3 linked regions of the Homo sapiens genome follow. The protein of the gene in region 3 interacts with the protein of the main gene of each other region in a biochemical or structural test. Each region holds a gene or a part of one and is shown on either strand. Other genes may lie near its edges.

Region 1 (6,879 bases), on a different chromosome or scaffold from region 3:
GGGTTTCTCCATGTTGGTCAGGCTGGTCTCAAACTCCCGACCTCAGGTGATCTGCCTGCCTTGGCCTCCCAAAGTTCTGGGATTTACAGGCATGAGCCACTGTGGCTGGCAGCATGTCTCATTCTGAAGATAAAATAACATCTTAAATTTTTCAAAGAAAAGATTAAGAAATTCATGTAGTATCTGACAAATTCACAAAGATCATCATTTATTAGTTCAACAAAGTCCCAAACTTTCATGACTCTTTAATAAGATTCATGTCTTCATTAAATTTTAAGTACTTAGTATAAGAAATAAAGCTGCAGTAGGCATGCAAGAATTAGACTCGGGGCTGGGCATGGTGGCTCATGCCTGTAATCCCAGCACTTTGGGAGGCCGAGGCAGGTAGATCACGAGGTCAAGAGTTCGAAACCATCCTGGCCAACAACATGGTGAAACCCCATCTCTACTAAAAACACCAAAATTAGCTGGGCGTGGCAGCACACGCCTGTAGTCCCAGCTACTCAGGAGGCTGAGGCAGGAGAATCACTTGAACCCGGGAGGCGGAGGTTGCAGTGAGCCAAGATGGCACCACTGCACTCCAGCCTGGCGACAAAGCCAGACTCCGTCTCAAGAAAAACAAAAAACAAAAAACAAAACAAAAAAAAGGATTAGACTGTACCCTAGAACATAATAAAACAGATTCTCCGTAAAACCCTTAAGTCCTGATACTGGTATCTCCTTTCAACCACTTCATCCTTACATTACAAGCATACGCCCAAAGTATACTTGCGACTAAATTTCCGTAAACAAAAAAAAAAGACAAAAATCTAGAAGTTCATGAAGAGGCAGCAATGCAACTTGTGAAAACAACATACATGGGCTTGGAAGTCGGACTGATTTTAAATCTGCATCCCAACTCTGCAGCCTGATAGCTACAGAAATCAGGCAACAACTTCTCTGAGTCCACTTATTTATCAATAAGATGGATATACTGCTATCTATCTTGTAGAGTTCTTAAAATTCTAGCATAGTAACTAGCATGAGGGAGGCATTAATAAATGTTCTGTCACAAAGAACACTGAGAAGTTCAGCATACAATGAAAGATTTGTAAAGTCAGATAAAGACTATTAGATTTTATCTACTTCTATCCTCAATTTTTACATTCCAAGGATAGCAGCAGAGTCACCTACCCAAGATTATATATACAGCTAGTTTCCGTGGCTGGACCAACACTCACTACCCAGTGCTTTTTCACTACCTACACTAAAACGAATAAAATATACAAACACCGTGATTCACCTCAATACACGTTTGTTTTATGTCGACTTAAAAAACTGAGCACTAAGTGATATTTAATAAAATGCTAAAATTCTTATTTCAATAACTTCAAGCTTTAACAGCCAAACTTTTCATCTAAAGTGTTTCCAAAAGTTTTTCAAGTCCAAATACAATTTTAAATAGGTCCTTTCTCAAGATAGTGAGGAGAAAAAGTCGTGATCTTTTCACTGGAATCCGATTAGCTGTTACAAATTAGTTTGCTGAATACAATTATATTCAGACTACCCTTAAAAGGAAACCATGCTTTAAAACCACCTTCCTAGCTCCCAAAATAGTGTCCTGTCACTTGAACTGTATATTTTATTTGGTATTCTAAATACATTCTGAACTTCCAAAAGAAAGTAAAACTAATTTACTAGAAGTACCAATGGAGTGTATTGGGGGGAAGAGGGCACAAAAGGGGGTGTTTCCCTTTTAAAGACATTCCCTTGCAAAGTACCATATGGATTATGTATGAAATCCCAATCAGAGTGCTCCGAAAACACTCCAGTATGAGAGAATGCGGTTTTACCTTTCAATTCTCTTATTCAAAATGCTGTCAGGACAGAACAGCACAGGAACACTATCTCCCAGTTTCTGACTTTATTTTTTAAAGAACATCCTTAGTATAAAGGACGTATTAAGAACTGTTAGAAATTGTACCAGCTCACAAATGAGGAGACTGACGATGTTAAGGAACACCTAAGAACTATGGAAATGAGATAAAGCGTCAGCGAGGGTTTCACTTTGATCTGATGCATCGTTTCGTGTCGTGTAAGTCCTCTAAGATGAGCAAGAGAGCTGAAGGTCCGATCACCCCAGCGTGGACCCAGCTGGCTCTGCTCTGCCAACCTGGGGACCAAATATCCTGTGATCACTTCCTTAGTCCAACAGTCCTAGCAAGAAGAGAGTGCTTGGCGCCTTGAAGAGGTGAAGGTAAAGTGAAGAATCAACCAGCCTATGTGATTAAAAGGAAGTCAACCAAACAGCCCATGCCCACCATCCCCAGATACACCCCAAGCCCCTTCCCCTACACATACCTCTCCTACAAACCCCTGCTCTGGTGGTGTAGGAACCTCTAAACCCACCACACTTCCCCGACACAACTCCCCTTCCCACAGGTATCCACGGTCACCTTCGCGGACCATCGCTGCCCCAACCCCAACTTCTCGCCCCACACTCCCTCGCCACAGAAGCCTTCCCGGCCGGTCTCCCCACTCCGCAGCCTCCCACACACGCGCCCTCCCCACTTTCTCGCCCTCGCTTCCCTCCCGGCTCTCGAGGAGCTTCCCCCGACCTCCCCTCGCTCTCCTCCACGCCCCCGAACACTTTCGCCCCTCCACCGCGGGCTCCCCGCCTCCAGTCTCGAGGCCCGGCCCAGGCATGTGGGGCAGGCACCTCCTCCACCGCCCCCCAAGCATGGCCCGGCCCGGGGGCTCCCGCGTTGATGGGAGCCTCGGAGACAGGGGGTCTGAGGAGAACGACGCCGGACCCGCGGTCCCTCCACTGCTCGCCGACCCCGGAGAGCTGGAGTGTGGAGTCGCCTCTGGGGTCCCCCAGGGAGTAGGAGTCTAGGCCGGTGCCCCCCAGCCCCATTTCCTCCCGATCGTTGGAGCGGAGGGGAAGGAGGATCCCCGGGACTCACCTCGAGCCTGTTGTCAACATTAGCCCCGGGTTTCCCAGCACCAACTCCAGCGCTCGGGCTCTCCCCTCCCCTCCCCCCACCTATCTCGCAGCCGAGGGCCCGCCTTCCCTCAGCTCCCCCTCCTCCCTCCGCCCGCCAGCCCTCCCGCCCGCCACTCACCAGCGCGGCCGGGCTGAGAGTGGGGGCGGGGCGGAAGGAGGCGAGAGGGAAAAGGCCATCCGCGCGACTGCCCGATTAAAAACAGTCCTGATCGTCTTCCCTGCGGCATGCCGATGCCCTCAGCTTGACTCTGGGGTGGCGGGTCCGGGGCAAAGGCTCATATGAGTGCCATTCACTTAACAGCTCTTTCAAATTCCCCAGTCGATGAGAAGAGCGAATTTTTCAGACTGGCAATACGTAAGGTAGCCACTACCAGCACCTCAAACCAGGGCCCCAGCGGAGGGGTGGAGTGTTCCGAGGACCCGAGGCAGGAAGTGGATTGGTCGCCAGGAAAGGGAAAGCGCCTGAATTGGAGCTGCGCAGGCGCAGGCGCTTCGCGGGGGATGGGGGTGGGAAGCGCGAATGGGGCGGGGCGGAGCTCACGGGAGGCGAGGAAGTGTGGTGGAATAGTGGGAGGGTTACGGAGCGCCATTAAGGACAAGCCCGGCCACGTGATTCTCCTGGGCGTTTCCTGGTGCGAACCTAAGGAAGAGGTCTAAGAAGAGAAAGTTTGATTGGACTAATTCGAGGGGAGACGTTGAAGATTTAGAAAATTGGAAACTGGAGAAACTAAACCATATGGCTGGTTTGGGAGGTGGGAGTCGCTTAGGAATGGGTCTAGTCTTAAGAATGCCCTAAAAGACATCGAAAGTCCTGCGGGGGGATTTCCAGAAGCACTTCTAGGTGTTCGACGTAAAAACCACCCAGGGCGAAGAAGAATCAAGGCTTTTTCCATACACTTCTTAGAAAGTACCTGGTTCTAGCAAGCAAACTTTTAAAAATTACAGTGGCAAGACTTCCCTGAGTTATCAAATCACCCATTTTAAAAAAAAAATGGCTAGCGTCGACATTTCTTCTGAATGCGAACCCAGGCCGACTTTCAAAAATGGGTATCAGTTTATCCACACTGCTTATTTCCTCCTGAATTGCTGAAATGGTGCATCTGGCCTCGAAACAGTACTGGGTTCTGCCAACATGATCCGAGTAGGTGGCTCTGGCTGGTCCGGAGCTAGAGGAACAAGGGTGCGAAACTGGTCTTGACGTTTGCTTGACTTGAGGGGGCCCCACCTGGTGCCCAAGCCCACGTAATGAACTACTACCAACCACAAATACTTGAGGCAAGTCCAGGTTCCCTATGACTCAACCTTTGCCCATTTGCCTCTATTTACTGTTTGCTTCCCCATTTACTCTTAGCACGCAAATTATCCTCTCATACTGAGTGTTGCTGCTTCCTGTATTTAAAAATATATATTTTTTATACACTACACATAGGTCAGTCATTTAAAGGATAGTGAAAGAGAAAGATGAAGGCCGGGCACGGTGGCTCACGCCTGTAATCCCAGCACTTTGGGAAGCCGAGGCGGGCGGATCACAAGGTCAGGAGTTCGAGACCATCCTGCCTAACACGGTGAAACCCCGTCTCTACTAAAAATACAAAAAAAATTAGCCGGCCGTGGTGGCACGTGCCTGTAGTTCCAGCTACTCCGGAGGCTGAAGCAGGAGAATGGCGTGAACCGGGAAGGCAGAGCTTGCAGTGAGCCGAGTTTGCGCCACTGCACTCCAGCCTGGGCGACAGAGGGAGACTCCGTCTCAAAAAAAAAAAAGAGAAAGATGAATACTGCTATTCTGCAGCATTGATAAACAATTATGAGAACTGCCCCAAATACCATATTGGTGATAGCCACCCACGCTTCTCTTCAAGGTTTCCTTTTCCCATTTCATGGGATTACCTTAAGAAGCTTTACTTCTGGCTGGTGCGGTGCCTCATGCCCGTAATCTCAGTACTTTGGGAGGCCGAGGCTGGTGGATCACCTGAGGTCAGGAGTTCCAGACCAGCCTGGCCCCAATATGGTGAAACCCAGTCTCCACTAAAAATACAAAATTAGCCAAATGTGGTGGCGAGCGCCTGTAATCCCAGCTACTCGGGAGGCTGAGGCAGAAGAATCACTTAGAACCCGGGAAGCAGAGGTTGCAGTGAGCCGAGATAGCGCCACTGCACTCTGGACTGGGCAACAGAGTGAGACTCTGCCTCAAAAAAAAAAAAAAAAAGAAAGAAAAGAAAGAAAGAAAAAAGCTTTACCTCTTTGTTAATAAATATAATAAATCCTTCTCATCCTAAATCAAGTCAACCTTTGTCTTTAATCAGGTGTTAAAAGGAAATCACCTAAAATCAAAAAACAGGAGGGCCTTTTTGTTGAGAATTTGCTATTTCACATTTGTGATTTTAGTTCATCGCAATCACCATTTTATAAAAATAGAGTCAGATGAATTTACTATCACAAAACTAATAAGTATACTATCTAGTATTCTCAAATCTAACTCCAAAAACCCAAGTTCTTTCTGCTATGTCTCTATGCAAACTTTTACATAAACTGAGAATGCTGCCAATCATTTTACTTCCAAAGACAGATGTCAAGCTAGCCACCAAAAGCCTGATGTGGGAATATCATTGTAATCTCTTAACTAGAAAAAACACCCCGCTCTGAAGAGGCCATCATTTTTTTATTCGGATAATAATTCAAACTTCATGATTTTCTGAAAATACATTCTCAAGATGAATTTTTGAGAAAAGTCTCAAAAATGTTCATTGTTATTTTTGCCTGCTCCAATTGACAGAACTGTTCTATATGGGGAAAAAAGAGAATGAAACTATTTAGTTTTTATTTAGACCTACACGATACTACTCCCTACTTAAAACCTACCTAGTGGCAGCTTCACAGACGAAAGCAAAGGCCAGGCAAAGAGATTACAATTACGGAGCAGGACAAATCCTGAGTTTAAGGAAAAGAAAAATGCATCAGATGAAGCCAACCAGCTATAACTACAGCCTCTGCCCACTGACCTCAGAGAACTGGGAGTGTTCTGTTCCATGAGGAAATCCAGCTTTGATCTTTTAGAAGCCGATGTTTAACTAACCTAGTTTAAGCTGCTTTTTAAAAAATACCCACCTCTTGGTATATCTCTGGTAGAAATTTTTTCAGCGTTCCCTCTATCTGCTTAACAGTTTCCAAAAGTAAATGTGTTGAGGTGTGTCCCTTCAATATGAAATATAAGCATCGGCCGGGCGTGATGGCTCACGCCTGTAATCCCAACACTGGGAGGCCAAGGCGGGCGGATCACCTGAGGGCGGGAGTTCGAGACCAGCCTGGCCAACATGGTGAAACCCTGTCCCTACTAAAAATATAAAATTAGCCAGGCTTGGTGGTGTGCGCCTGTAATCCCAGCTACTCGGGAGGCTGAGGCAGGAGAATCGTTGAACCCAGAAGGCGGAGGTTGCAGGCAGCCGAGATCACTCCATTGTACTCCAGCCTGGGCAACAAGAGCGAAACTCTGTCTCAAAAAATAAAAAAAGAAAAGAAATGTAAGTATTGAGGGTGCATTTAAACAAATATAAACATACGAAACGTATTAGTACTTATTACCAAATCATGTTGGAATTTCTTGTGGAACTGTAAGATGAAAATCAGTTCACTAACACTGGCTTCTCTGAATTCCACCAAAACAGAACACAAGCAATGTGAGATTAACCTGTTTTATTTTTCAAGCTTTTAATGTGGCTAGTCAAAAAAGTAAATTAATATTGGCTTGGCCGGGCGCTATGGCTGACACCTGTAATCCCAGCATTTTGGGAGGCCAAGGCGGGTGGATCACCTGAGGTCAGGAGCTCGAGACTAGCCTGGCCAACATGGTGAAACCCTGCCTCTACTAAAATACAAAAATTGGCCGGTCATGGTGG
Region 2 (7,000 bases), on a different chromosome or scaffold from region 3:
TCATCGTTGTCATCATCATTGTCATCATAATCCACCTCATTATTGTCATTATCATGTGATGATGATCATCATTGTCATCATCATCATTGTCATCATTATCAGTCATTGTCATCATCATTGTCATCATCATTATCAGTCATTGTCATTATCATCAACCTCATTATTGTCATTGTCATCATCATCACTGTCATCGTGATCATTATTCTCCTCCTCATCACATCATTATTGACATCATCATTATCATCGTCATCATCATTGTCACCATCATCATCATCATCGTCATAATTGTCATCATCATCAGTCATTGTCACCATCATTATCAACCTCATTATTGTCATTATCATGGTGATCATCATCGTCATTGTCATCATCATTATCAATCATTGTCATCATCATCATCAACCCCATTATTGTCATTCTCATCATCATTGTCATCATTATTGTAATCATTATTTTCCTCCTCATCACATCATTGTCATAATCATTATCATCATCGTCATCATCATCACTGTCACCATCATCATTGTCATTGTCGCTATTATTGTTGTCATCATTACCGTCATCATTGTCATCATCGTCATATCATCATCATCCTCATCATTATCATTGTCATCTTCACTGTCATTATTGTCATTATCAATGCTTTGCCTCAGTCACGAACACCACTGAGTATATAGGATACTGTGTTGAGGGAGAGGGCAGATGCCCCTGTAGGTGGAATTAAGGTTATCTTTGGGAGTCGTTAGTAAGAATCAGCACATAATGAATACTATTAGCCATCTGCAAAGTAATCCAGCAGATGGCCTAATCTTCTTAACTGAGTTACAATCCTCTATAATCCAGACCCTGCTGACCTGCCTGTTCTCACTCCCTGATTAACATTCCCTTGACCTTATTCCATGTTCTTTCTCGTCTTTGAGATTTTGGTCCTGCCCTTCACCCTGTCCTGAATGCCTTTCCTCTCTTCCCAGCTTTAGTCCCTGCTATTCATCCATGAAGACTTGGCTCAGTCTGGGTCAATACTCTTCCTCACACTTATAATACTCAGAGTCAATCTCTATAAATGAATGCAGTTGCCAATTTTTTAAAAATAATTCATTTATGTGTCTATAACTCCCGATTACTGTGAACTCTCTGAGTGGAGGGTTTAGGTTTTGTTTATTTCTGCACTTCTGGTCCATAACACAATGTCTGGAACTTAAAGATCACTCAGTAAGTGTATACTGAATAATTTATCTGTAAATACACGCAAAGGGAACTTGGAATACTGAGTTTCACCACAAGTATGTGGGTGTGGTCTCAGGGAGGCATGACAAAAATGAGATTATAACTAGAAAAGTGGATACCCCATCAAGTACATTGTTCCTTGTCTGAATAAACTGTGAGTTCCTAAACTTTCAGGAATTTGTCAGTTCTTTGAGAACCCAGAACTTCTCTCTAGGAGAATATTCATATGCCCTTATGGTTGAGATGGCTGTGTGTTCACCGAAATCAGTTTCACTTTCCTCCCAAATGCACTGCTACACTGCATCTCCCAGACTTGCTTGCAGTTAAGAGCCATATCAGTTTTGGCCAGTGGAAGCAGGAGAAAGGGATGAATGTCACTTCCTGTCCTGGCCAAAAGAAAACAAACAAACAAAAAACCCTCTCCTCCAAGGTCCTCCAGACTCTCTTGATACTTGTCTACAAGCTAAAAGCAAAGAAACCTCAGCAGACTCTGAAACCGTAGGGGATGTTGGGGCTCCAGGATGTAAGAAGCTTGGATCCCTGAATGACCATGTGGAGCATTGTTTCCTGACCAGATGCACCCTTCTGGGATTTTGCAGAACCAAGAAAAAAAAAATGTTATTGTGTCAAGCAGCTGATAGTTTGGATTTTGTTTGTTACAATAGCTATTCTCACTACCCTCATAAATACACACTTTTTTTAAAACGTAAATTCCAGTTTTCATGGACTCTAATCCTCACTCAATGACCCCAGGTTAGGAATCTCTGGAATAAAGAATGTGGGATCAAGGTGCATCAATATGCAAATGGTTCCTGAGCCTTATCCAGAGGAGAACGATTTATCAGGCAGAAAAGGATTCTAATTGTGAAGAATGACTCACCAAGGCTTGAGTGAATGACATGTAAGCAAGGTTTCCTCTTGTTCTGTTTCCATGCTTACCTTACAGTCTTTTAGTGGTTAATTTAGATTCTGAGATATATTAAGATATAATTAGGTTGTCCAGGTTGGGGTCTGAAGGTTCTGTTCACTGGAATTATATAGCCTGCCTTTTACCCCCACCATGTGCTGAGCATTATGAAAGATGCTGGTGCCCATTATTTTATTTGATCTTCAAAATAACCCCGTGAGATAAATGCCGTTACTTCTCTTTTACAGTCTGGAAATTGACTTCAGAGAGCTTATGTTGCTTGACCAAAGTTACCAAGAAAAGAAGTGGCAGATCCAGGGTCCAAACCCCAGGTCTTCTGAGATTTTTTTTTTTTTTTTTTGAGAGGGAGTTTTGCTCTTGTCTCCCAGTCTGGAGTTCAGTGGTACGATCTCGGCTCACTGCAACCTCCACCTCCTGGGTTCAAGCGATTCTCCTGCCTCAGCCTCCCAAGTAGCTGGGATTACAGGCGCTCACCACCATGCCTGGCTAATTTTTGTATTTTTAGTAGAGATGGGGTTTCACCATGTTGGGCAGGCTGCTCTGGAACTCCTGACCTCAAGTGATCTGCCTGCCTCAGCCCTGCAAAGTGCTGGGATTACAGGTGTCAGCCACCGCGCCCAGCTTCTTCTGAGATTTTTGCTAAGCCATCTCCTGCCTACTTAGTTCCAGGAATCTTTGCTTTGCCCCATTCATTCTTCTCCAGCTTCTAAATCCTCCCTGTTGCTTTGAGTGTCCTTACCTCCACTTGACTCATAGGAATAGAGAAGGAAGGTTGTCCATCCCAACAGGTAACTGGACCATCGGGTCATCTTGGCTGCCCTCTTCTCTGTGGAAAAGAAGACAAAAATTTTCATCCCACACGTCCCCTTCCTCTTCCCATTACCTCCTAGATTTGACGTCATACATGCCATTTTTCTTTCCATCCACAGTAATTTAAAAAATAGACCAGGCATGGTAGCTCACACCTGTAATCCCAGCATTTTGGGAGACCAAGACAAAGGATCGCTTAAAGCCAGAAGTTCAAGACCAGCCTGGACAACATAGTGAGACCCCACCTCTACAAAATTTTCATTTAAATTAGCCAGGCATGGTGGTGTATGCCTGTGGTCCCAGCTATTCAGGAGGCTGAGGCAAGAGGATCACTTGAGCCCAGGAGGTCAAGGCTGCAGTGAGCTATGATTGTGCCACTGTACTATAGCCTCAGTAACAGAGTGAGACCCTATCTCTAAATACACACATACACACACATATACCACACACACACATATGTTTCTACATATGTGTGTGTGATATGTGTGTGTGTTTCTACATGTGTGTATGTACAGGTTTGTAGCCTGGAAGCACAGGCTGTATCATATAGCCCAGGTGTGTAGCAGGCACTACCATCTAGGTTCGTGTGAGTACACTCTATGATGCTCACACAAGGACGACATTGCCTAACAATGCACTTCTCAGACTGTATTCCTGATGCATAACTCTACTGTCATGTACTGTCCTTAGGAAAGTGTGATGGAAAGAAAAAAATGAAACACTTGTTGAACACTTACTGTACTCCAGGCTCGATGTTCAACACACTTTATGTCACTTGGCTTTCATAAATCAAGTAATACATGTTTTAACCCCCATTTTATAGATGCAGAAACTAACACTCAGACCTGGATTGGTCACCCAGGGAGGAAAGGGCAGGGTCTGGGTTCTAACCCATATTAATGGCTGCAAGGGCCCTTCTCATTGTTGGAACCTTAACAATAGCCTTAAATCCTCCCCATGAATCACACTCATCTCCTTAGCTGGAGACGAAAGTCCTTCAGTGATTAGCATTTACCGTCCTCATTAACCATAGTTATTACTAGCTCTATTTTCCTTCGTGCCGTTTCCTTGATGACAGATGACCATGCCATTCTCAGCAGCAACAAGAACCCACAGTTTGGAATTGGTGGTCTGGATTTGACTTGAGTCTCAGCTACTATCACCACTTCTACGGCTGGCTCCCAATTATTGACTGCTTACTGTATACCGGATGTCCTAAGCTTTGTATCCACAATCCAATTTGCTCCTGAAAATCTAAGGGCAGGCATGATCATCTCCACTTCACAGAAAAGGGAAACTGAGGCTTGGGAGGTTAAGTAACTTACCAAAGGACCACAGCTGGTACGTGATGTATCTCAGAGTCAGTGCGGGCCTGTCTATACTAGTGTCAGAGTTCTTAGGCAACGTAAACCCCTTCCCCTCTATGAGCCTTTGTTTCCTCATCTGCAGAATGTATTTAGTCGTTCCTGTGTCTCCGGGTGGCCACGAGGGTCCAATTAGACCTTGATGTGAAAATGCTTTTCACTTGTAGATCGTTAGTGGCATTTATGAATTATTAAAGCCAAGGTCAGGATAGCTCGGGAAGGCATCAGATGGAACCAACTTTTAGCAAGAAACCCAGATACCGCCAGGAATCAAAATCCCAAAGTTACTGATTTAAGTCCTCCCACAGGTAGGTGGCACCACTGAGTATCTGAGCCACACAACACGCCCCAAACTTTTTTCCTCTCCCAACAGTGCTTGGCTCTCCCGCTACACATCAAAGTGTCTTTCTCCCTTTTTCTTGTCGTTCTTCCTTGAAGCCTTTTACTCTTAACCCCAGCACCATGCCTCAAACAGGCTTTTTCTGAGTGATGTCTCATTCACTACTTGTGAAGGACTCTCATTCTCTTTGGCTAGTGGCTCAGTCAGGACTTAGACCTGACAATGCAGGATGAATGAGTCAGATTCAAATCCCAGCTCCACCGTTTACCAGCTGGGTGACTTCAGGGAAATTACTTAAATTTTCTTTTTCTTTTCTTTTTTTTTTTTTTTTTTTTTTTTTTGAGACAGGGTCTCACTCTGTCGCCCAGACGCCCAGACTGGAGTGCAGTGGCACCACCTCAGCTCACGGCAACCTCCATCTGCCAGGCTCAAGCGATTCTCCTGCCTCAGCCTCCCAAGTAGCTGGGATTACAGGCACGTGCCACCACGCCTGGCTAATTTCTGTATTTTTAGTAGAGACAGGGTTTCACCACGTTGGCCAGGCTGGTCTTGAACTCCTGACCTCAAATGATCCACCCGCCTCGGCCTCTTAAAGTGCTAGTGTTACAGGCGTGAGCCACTGGGCCCAACCTTAAATTTTCTAAGCCTCAGTTTCGTCGTGTCAAAACATGAGGATGCTAATCCTATCTACCACTCAGCCTTGTTATGATGATTAACGACAATCATAAAAATATGACAGATTTGGGAGGCCAAGATGGGAGGATTGCTTGAGGCCAGGAGTTTGAGATCAGCCTGGACAACATAGTGAGACCTCATCTCTACAAAAATAAAAAAAATAGCCTTGCATGGTGGTGCATGCCTGTAGTCCCAGCTACTCAGGAAGCTGAGGTGGGAGGATCACTGGAGCCCAGGAGGTCGAGGCTGCAGTGCACTATGATCGCACCACTGCACTCCAGCCTGGGCGACACAGCAAGGCTCTGTCTCAAAACACAAAACAAAACAAAAAACAGATAAAACTCATTGAGTGCTACACACTATTCTAAATTCACTGTAATCCTGATAGGAAGTAGCCCAACGTGGTAGGTACCATTACTACCCCAGATATGCACAGATGGGGCACAGTAAGCTTAAGCACCTTGCTGAGGGTTACAGATCATGCAAGTTGGAGAACTTGCAAGTGAACTCCAACAATCTGACTCAGTTCAGAGTAATTGAGCTCTTAACCAATGTACGATGCTGCCTCTAGGCTTAACATGGGACCGGACATGTGCTAAGAACTCATAAATATCATCCAAAATAGTATTGTTCATATAGTATTGTTTCACTTCTGAGAGCCAGAACTGTATTTTCAACTGCCTCCCAGACATGTCCACCTAGATGTCCTTCAAGCATCTCAAATTCCAAGCTTTGGCTGTTGAGATACAGCCCAAAATATGCTATCCTTCCCCCATGTTACTTCATTTAATTGCACTATGTTCTTCTCAACCACCTGAGTTGTAGCCCCCAGTGTAGATCTGCTGTCCCTGTCTCTTGCTGTGTTCTATCAGTCAGTTGGTTCTACTTTCTGGAGCTCCTGAATCTATCCGCTTTTCCTGCCTCTGCTGTTAAAGACTAAAGGAAGGCCTTTTTCATTTCTCTTCTCAACTATTCAACTGTTGTCCTGTTGCCTCACTGATATGCAGCCTCCAGCCTCTCTCCTCTACAAGGCTGAGCTCTTTTTCTCTTTTTGTTTTTTTCTTTTTTCTTTTCTTTTTTTTTTTGAGACAGGGTCTTGCTCTGTCACCCAGGCTGCAGTGCAGTGGCGCCATCATGGCTCACTACAGCCTCCATCTCCCATCAAGTGATCCTCCCACCTCAGCCTCCCAAGTGGCTGGGACTACAGGCACGCATCACCACACCCAGCTAATTTTTAAACTATTATTATTGTTTGTAGAGACGAGGTCTTGCTATGTTGCCCAGGCTGGTCTCAAACTCCTGAGCCCAAGCCATCCTCCTGCGTAGCCTCCTAAGCACTGGGATTACAGGCAAGAGCCACTGTGCCCAGTATGGGCCCTTTCCTGATGCATGCTTTATGCATCCACTCAGGAATGAGTATTTATTGAGCATTTAAAAGATGTGGGGCCAGGGCTACACGATGAGTATGCAGCAGTGGGTAAAGCAGGCATAGGCCCTGCCTTCGTGGGGCTGAGAGTCAACCAAGGAGACAGATATGAAGCGAAGAAACCAGAAACAAATACAACTCTTCGCTGTGATCATTGCTGTGGACGAGTCTCAGGAACAACTAGGACAAGGTCACTTTTGATTGAGAGGTGAGGGGAGGGTGCTCTGAGA
Region 3 (6,131 bases):
GCCCAGGTGCGGCCTCTGCCTCCAACTCAGGTCTCCCTGGGGCCGCCCCAGGCCCCACAAGGGCCAGGTCGGGTGAGCGCCCCCCAAGGGGCACCAGACCCCGCCAGGTCGGGGGCCCCCTCGCCAGGGCCGCGTGGCCTCCGCCCCGGACTTACAGAGAGCACCCACCCCGGTCTTCAAAAGGCCAGAGTCGTCCCGCCGCCTGGACCCCTCAGCCACCTCCCGGGCCTCCTTCCAGCGGCCGCCACCTTCTCCACCAGCTCCCTAGTTCTGGTTGCCACCCAAGCTCCGTCCCCATGGCAACCGCCACCGCCGGAAGCGACAGGCCCTAAAGCGACAGGGCAGGGCGGTGGTCACGTGCCAGGAAACGGTGACGAGCGTGCCCGACGTGCCTCCTGCCGGTCGCTGGCGGCATAGACTTTCCTCGCTTTTCTGTCCTTCCTCCGCTCGCACGATCCCACCTTTTCACATGGTCCCGTCCCCTAAGAAGCTGCAGCGGCCAATACTGCCAATTTTTACTTTCCGCAACCTTGGCAAGATGGGGTGGAGAAGTATGAACTCGGATACAATGCTCTTTTCCAAAAGCAAACTGAATTTCCAGGTCTCATGGATGCAGCACACAACCGTCCTGCCTGCCTCCTCACCGGGCACCGCGTGTTGCAGACAATTCCAGCTGGCTGGGGGCAGATATGACACAGGGTGCACCAGCTTGCGGTTCTCAGCACAAAGCGTTTCCGCAAAACCGGTCTGGCTATATCTATTAGGATCATTCCACGTCAAAGTGGCTCTCCACTAACATCTCATGGAAGACGGCAACAGGTGGCCACACGGGTTTCCACTGGGACCCCTGCAGGAAACCAGCCAGAGCCACTGAGGCAGAAGGCTCTCTGCTGCTGTCATTTTAGGAGAATGTGAATAATTCTCCCCGCCCACACTGCCATGCCCCAGTGATGGTAAATTGATTAATATGCATACATCTTAAAATAAAAAAGAAAGGATAAACTGGGCAAGCTGTGTTTATTATAGTCTGAGACTTTATAAAAGAGACTGGAAAATACGTGGAATTAGAACATGCAATTTAAACAGCAAACATTGGTAAACACAGCATGTCTGTGGCTACCAGAGGGGAATACGTATGGCTGTCAGGTCAAATAGAGTTTGAGGGAATTCGCCCAATAGGAAGGCTTTGGAATTGAGTGTGAGAACCTGTGGCTGGAAGCACACAGCAATACCAATCCCATCAAGGCAAGCTGGTATCTGTATCCAACCACAGCAAAACCAGTCCCAAGGAACACAGGGCTTGCCTGGCAGAACTGCCAAAACAGAAAGCGGTGTGCAAGAACTGGGGAAATGAACACTGATACCATGGAGAGGAAAAAATAATTCAAAGTATTGGCAGGAATCCCTGAGAACCATTTTACCATCTTAAAAGAGACAAAAAATAAAAGGGAGGAAGAATAAGCATTTTCAAGAGGTCTGATCTACTCGTTCCTATCCATACCTCAGCGGTTTACAAAATAGCGCTGATCTCAGGGCATAGCCAGGAGGTTCAATTATAAAAAGTCAAACTAGCAGTGGGCTGGGCGCAGTGGCTCACGCCTGTGATCCCAGCACTTTAGGAGGCCAAGGCAGGAGGACTGCTTGAGCCCAGGAGTTCGAGACCAACCTGGTCAACACAGGGAGACCCTGTCTCTACAAAAAATAAATTAGCTATGCATGGTGGTGCACGCCTGTGGTCCCAGATACTTGGGCGGCTGAGGCAGTGCCCACAGCGTCAAGGCTTCAGTGAACCTTGATCACGACACTGCACTCCAGCCTGGGTGACAAAGCAAGACCTTGTCTCCAGAAAACAAAAACAAAAACACACAAAAACGGAGGGGTTCTTACTAGCGAAGTGAAAGGAGCTTGCTGCCCTCTGGTGGGTTCCTAAAGAGGAAGCTGACAGGACACCACGCTGGGCCACCTGGGAAGCCTCCAGGCTTTCCCTGTTCTCCAAAGGGAGCTACTATGGCCCTGACAGCCCAGCTGCTGAGGAAGCACAGTACTTAACCATTTCCGTATCCACAGCAGCAAGGCCTCAGTGCAAAGAAATATGTTGGTCAAAGCCTGACTTTGCAATTGCTAGCCTGTTTTGCCCAACTTTCTATGAAGCTCTTCTGACCCCATCTGAGCTTTGGTTTGGGAGGGTCATAAGAAATTCAGCTGGGGTGACAACAGGGTCATATCAGCACTGTAAAACTCTTTATTAAAAATAATAATAATAATCACACCAGTACCTGCCAGAATAACTTCCGCCCACTTGCCCACAATCCAGGGAATTCCTATTTAGGGCCGTGGCCTAATTTGTGAAAGAGGCCAAGCCTAAGTTTTTAAGAATGCCTTAATCCAGGGAGATTACACTGGTGGGCCACAGTACTGCCACCACACAGAAGTTCAGGTTACAAGCCTCTTCCAGATCCTTATGCTTCAGGGAGAGAAGACAAGTTGGAAATCCCTAGACCCAAGTCCAGGGCAAGGGAAGATGCTTTCCTGTTACTGTTCCCCAGGGACAATCATCTTTGCAGAGGAATAATGTTGCAGCTGGAAGAAAGAAGAAAAGGAATGGCGTAAGTTTGGAGGCTCCCTTCAGGAAGGTCAGAGGCTGAGCCCTTCTGACCTTTTCACCAATGTTCTTTCATTCTTTTAAAGCAAATGCCTAGTGCATGAATGAACTGGAGAGACTCCCAGGAGAGACTCTGGGGCTCCCTCTGCTTCTAGAGCTGTAGTCTCGTTCCTACCACGAGGATTTATCTGCAGTTTCCATGCAAACTGGGGATTCCCATTATTCCCCAATGTCTCCCCAGCCTTCCCCTCCAGCTTCATGTTTAACAAACACTCAAATGATGCCCCAGTGAGAATGAACAGAAACAGATACTTTACCCCAGCAGTCCTTTTCCTGCCCAGCGTGTTGGAACAAGTCTAAGCTGGTGTTTTTCCCCCCTGCGGATCACTGTCACATTCAGGGGCTTCTGAAAAGAAAATAAGCTCATTTCGTGTTCAGCCTCGTTAGTACTCAGAGATGCAGGCTAAAATGCTGAGATCCCATTTTTTGCCTATCAAATTGGTAAAGATTTACATTTGCAGCATAATCCTGTGGTTGGCGAGAGGGTGGGGAACGTGGCACTGCACTCTCAGGGCAGCCAGGGTGCTGACCTCAGTACCATCTTCCTCAAAAAACACGTGTCCCACCACCAACGATCTTTAAAAGGTACATCCAAGGTACATAGTACACAATTGCAAGATGACATACAAATTACAAGACATACAAATGCCTGTAATCCCAGCACTCTACAAAAAGTATAAAAATTAGCGAGACATACAAATGAAATGTTCATTCCAGGACTGTGTAGAAATTCAAAAACTGAAAACACCAGAAATGTCCATCAATAGGTATTGTTCAAATACAGTACAGAGAATGAAGGGTTTTAGTCAAAACAAACCAAAACCCCACCAAAGTATGAACCTATTTGATAATATTTTCTTTCTTTTTTTTTTTTTTTGAGACACAGTCTCACTCTGTCACCCAGGCTGGAGTGCAGTGGCACAATCTTGGCTCACTGCAACCTCTGCTTCCCAGGTTCTAGCAATTCTCATGCCCCAGCCTCCTGAGTAGCTGGGACTACAGGTGCCCGCCACCACACCCGCCTAATTTTAGTATTTTTAGTAGAGACAGGGTTTCGCCATGTTGGCCAGGCTGGTCTCAGAACTCCTGATCTCAGGTGATCCACCCACCTCAGCCTCCCAAAGTGCTGGGATTACAGGTGTGAGCCACCGTGCCCGGCCGATAATATTTTCTAAAAGGACACCTGTGTTGCTCTAGTGTGCGAAGTTTTCTGGAAGAACATGGAAAAACTTGTTAAGAGTGGTTACTTCCAGAGAGGACTAGTCCTTTGGAAAAAGAAGATGTTTACTTTTATATATTTCCATATCATTAATTTTTTAACCATGCGTATGTATTGCTTTATTTTTCTGAGACAGAGTCTTGCTCTGTTGCCCAGGCTGGAGTGTAGTGGTGCAATCTCAGCTCACCGCAACCTCAGCCTCCTAGGTTCAAGCAATTCTCGTGCCTCAGCCTCCTGAGTAGCTGGGACTACAGGCATGCAGCACCATGCTCAGCTAATGTTTCTGTATATTTAGTAGAGACAGGGTTTCACCATACTGGCCAGCCTGGTCTCAAACTCCTGGGCTCAAGTGATCTGCCCACCTCAGCATCCCAAAGTGCTGGGATTTTGGGCATGTGCCACCACACCTGGCATGTATGTATTACTTTCTTTTTTTTGAGATGGGTTCTCTGTCGCGCAGGCTGGAGTACAGTGGCACAATCTCGGCTCACTGCAACCTCCGCCTCCCCGGTTCAAGCAATTCTCCTGCCTCAGCCTCCTGAGCAACTGGGATTACAGGCACGTGCCACCATGCCCAGATAATTTTTGTATTTTTAATAGAGATGGGGTTTCGCCATGTTGGCCAGGCTGGTCTTGAACTCCTGATCTCAGGTGATCCACCCACCTCAGCCTCCCAAAGTGCTGGGATTACAGGCATGAGCCACCACACCCAGCCTGTATATAGTACTTTAATTTAAAAAATTAAAATTAAAGCAGGGGGAGTACATACCAAAAAAATTACAAATTAAAATACGATATCCAGGCACGGTGGCTCACGCCAGTAATCCCAGCACTTTGGGAGGCAGGAAGATCACTTGAGCCCAGGAGTTGAAGACCAGGCTGGGCATGGTGAAACCCTGACTCTACAAAAAGTATAAAAATTAGCGAGGCATGGTGGTGTGCACCTATAGTCCCAGCTACTCGGGAGGCTGAGGCAGGAGGATTGCTCAAGGGAGGTCAAGGCTGCAGTGAGCTGTGACTGCACCACTGCACTCCAGCCTGGGCAACAGAGTGAGACCCTGTCTCAAAAAAATAAAAATAAATAAATAAAACAAGATGCCATCAAAATCTAAAACTTCTATGTATCAAATGACACTATTAACAGAGTGAAAAGGCAACCCACATGATAGGAGAAAATACATACATGCTGGGTACGGTGGCTCATGCCTGTAATCCCAACACATTCAGAGGCCCAGGCAGGAGGACTGCCTCAGCTCAAAAGTTCAAGACCAGCCCGGCAACAAAGAGAGATCTCGTCTTTACAAAAAACATATATTTTTTTTAATTAGCCAGGCTTGATGACGCACATCTGTAGTCCCAGCTACTTGGGAGGCTGAGGTGGGAGGATCACTTGAGCCCAGAAGCTCAAGGCTGCAGTGAGCCATGAATGTGCCACTGCACTCCAGCCTGGGTGACAGAGTGAGATTCTGTCTTAAAAAAAAAAAAAAAAGAAAAAAGAAAATACATGCAAATCATATATCTAATAAGGATTTAACATCCAGAACATATAAAGAACTCCTATACCTCAACATCAACAAAAAAATCTGATTAGAATATGAGCAAAGGGCTGGGTGTGGTGGCTCACGCCTGTAATCCCAACACTTTGGGAGGCCAAGGCAGGCGGATCATGAGGTCAGGAGATCAAGACCATCCTGGCTAACACGGTGAAACCCCGTCTCTACTAAAAATACAAAAAAAAAGGCCAGGCGCGGTGGCTCACGCCTGTAATCCCAGCACTTTGGGAGGCCAAGGTGGGCAGATCACAAAGTCAGGAGATTGACACCATCGTGGCTAACACAGTGAAACCCTATCTCTACTAAAAATACACACACAAAAAAAATTAGCCAGGCTTGGTGGTGGACGCCTGTAGTCCCAGCTACTCGGGAGGCTGAGGCAGGAGAATGGCGTCAACCCAGGAGGCGGAGTTTGCAGTGAGCCGAGATTGTGCCACTGCACTCCAGCCTGGGTGACAGAGCGAGACTCCGTCTCAAAAAAAAAAAAAAAGAAAAGAAAAGAAAATGAGCAAAGGACTTGAATAGACCTTTCTTTTTCTTTCTTTTTTTTTTTTTTTTTTTGAGACAGGGTTTCACTCCTGTTGCCCAGGCTGGAGTGTAGTGATGCAATCCCTTAGCTCACTGCAACCTCTGCCTCCTGGGCTCAAGCGATTCTCCTGCCTCAGCCTCCTGAGTAGCTGTGACTACAGGCACAATC

Evidence for each region.
Region 1: the proteins of PSMD9 (region 3) and UPF2 form a complex in vitro, tested with the Homo sapiens proteins (one study listed by IntAct).
Region 2: the proteins of PSMD9 (region 3) and ELSPBP1 form a complex in vitro, tested with the Homo sapiens proteins (one study listed by BioGRID).

The regions. Positions count from the first base shown.
Region 1 is NC_000010.11:12,039,810-12,046,688, forward strand, and holds the start of UPF2 (regulator of nonsense transcripts 2), read right to left. Parts: upstream 3,001-6,879; 5' UTR 2,946-3,000; intron 1-2,945. UniProt on the Homo sapiens protein: Involved in nonsense-mediated decay (NMD) of mRNAs containing premature stop codons by associating with the nuclear exon junction complex (EJC).
Region 2 is NC_000019.10:48,004,632-48,011,631, reverse strand, and holds part of ELSPBP1 (epididymal sperm-binding protein 1 precursor), read right to left. Parts: intron 4,551-7,000; exon of another isoform or gene 4,409-4,550; coding exon of another isoform or gene 4,291-4,408; intron 2,982-4,290; coding exon of another isoform or gene 2,965-2,981; coding exon 2,895-2,964; intron 1-2,894.
Region 3 is NC_000012.12:121,912,733-121,918,863, reverse strand, and holds the end of PSMD9 (26S proteasome non-ATPase regulatory subunit 9), read right to left. Parts: intron 3,009-6,131; coding exon 2,920-3,008; intron 2,581-2,919; coding exon 2,553-2,580; 3' UTR 567-2,552; downstream 1-566. UniProt on the Homo sapiens protein: Acts as a chaperone during the assembly of the 26S proteasome, specifically of the base subcomplex of the PA700/19S regulatory complex (RC).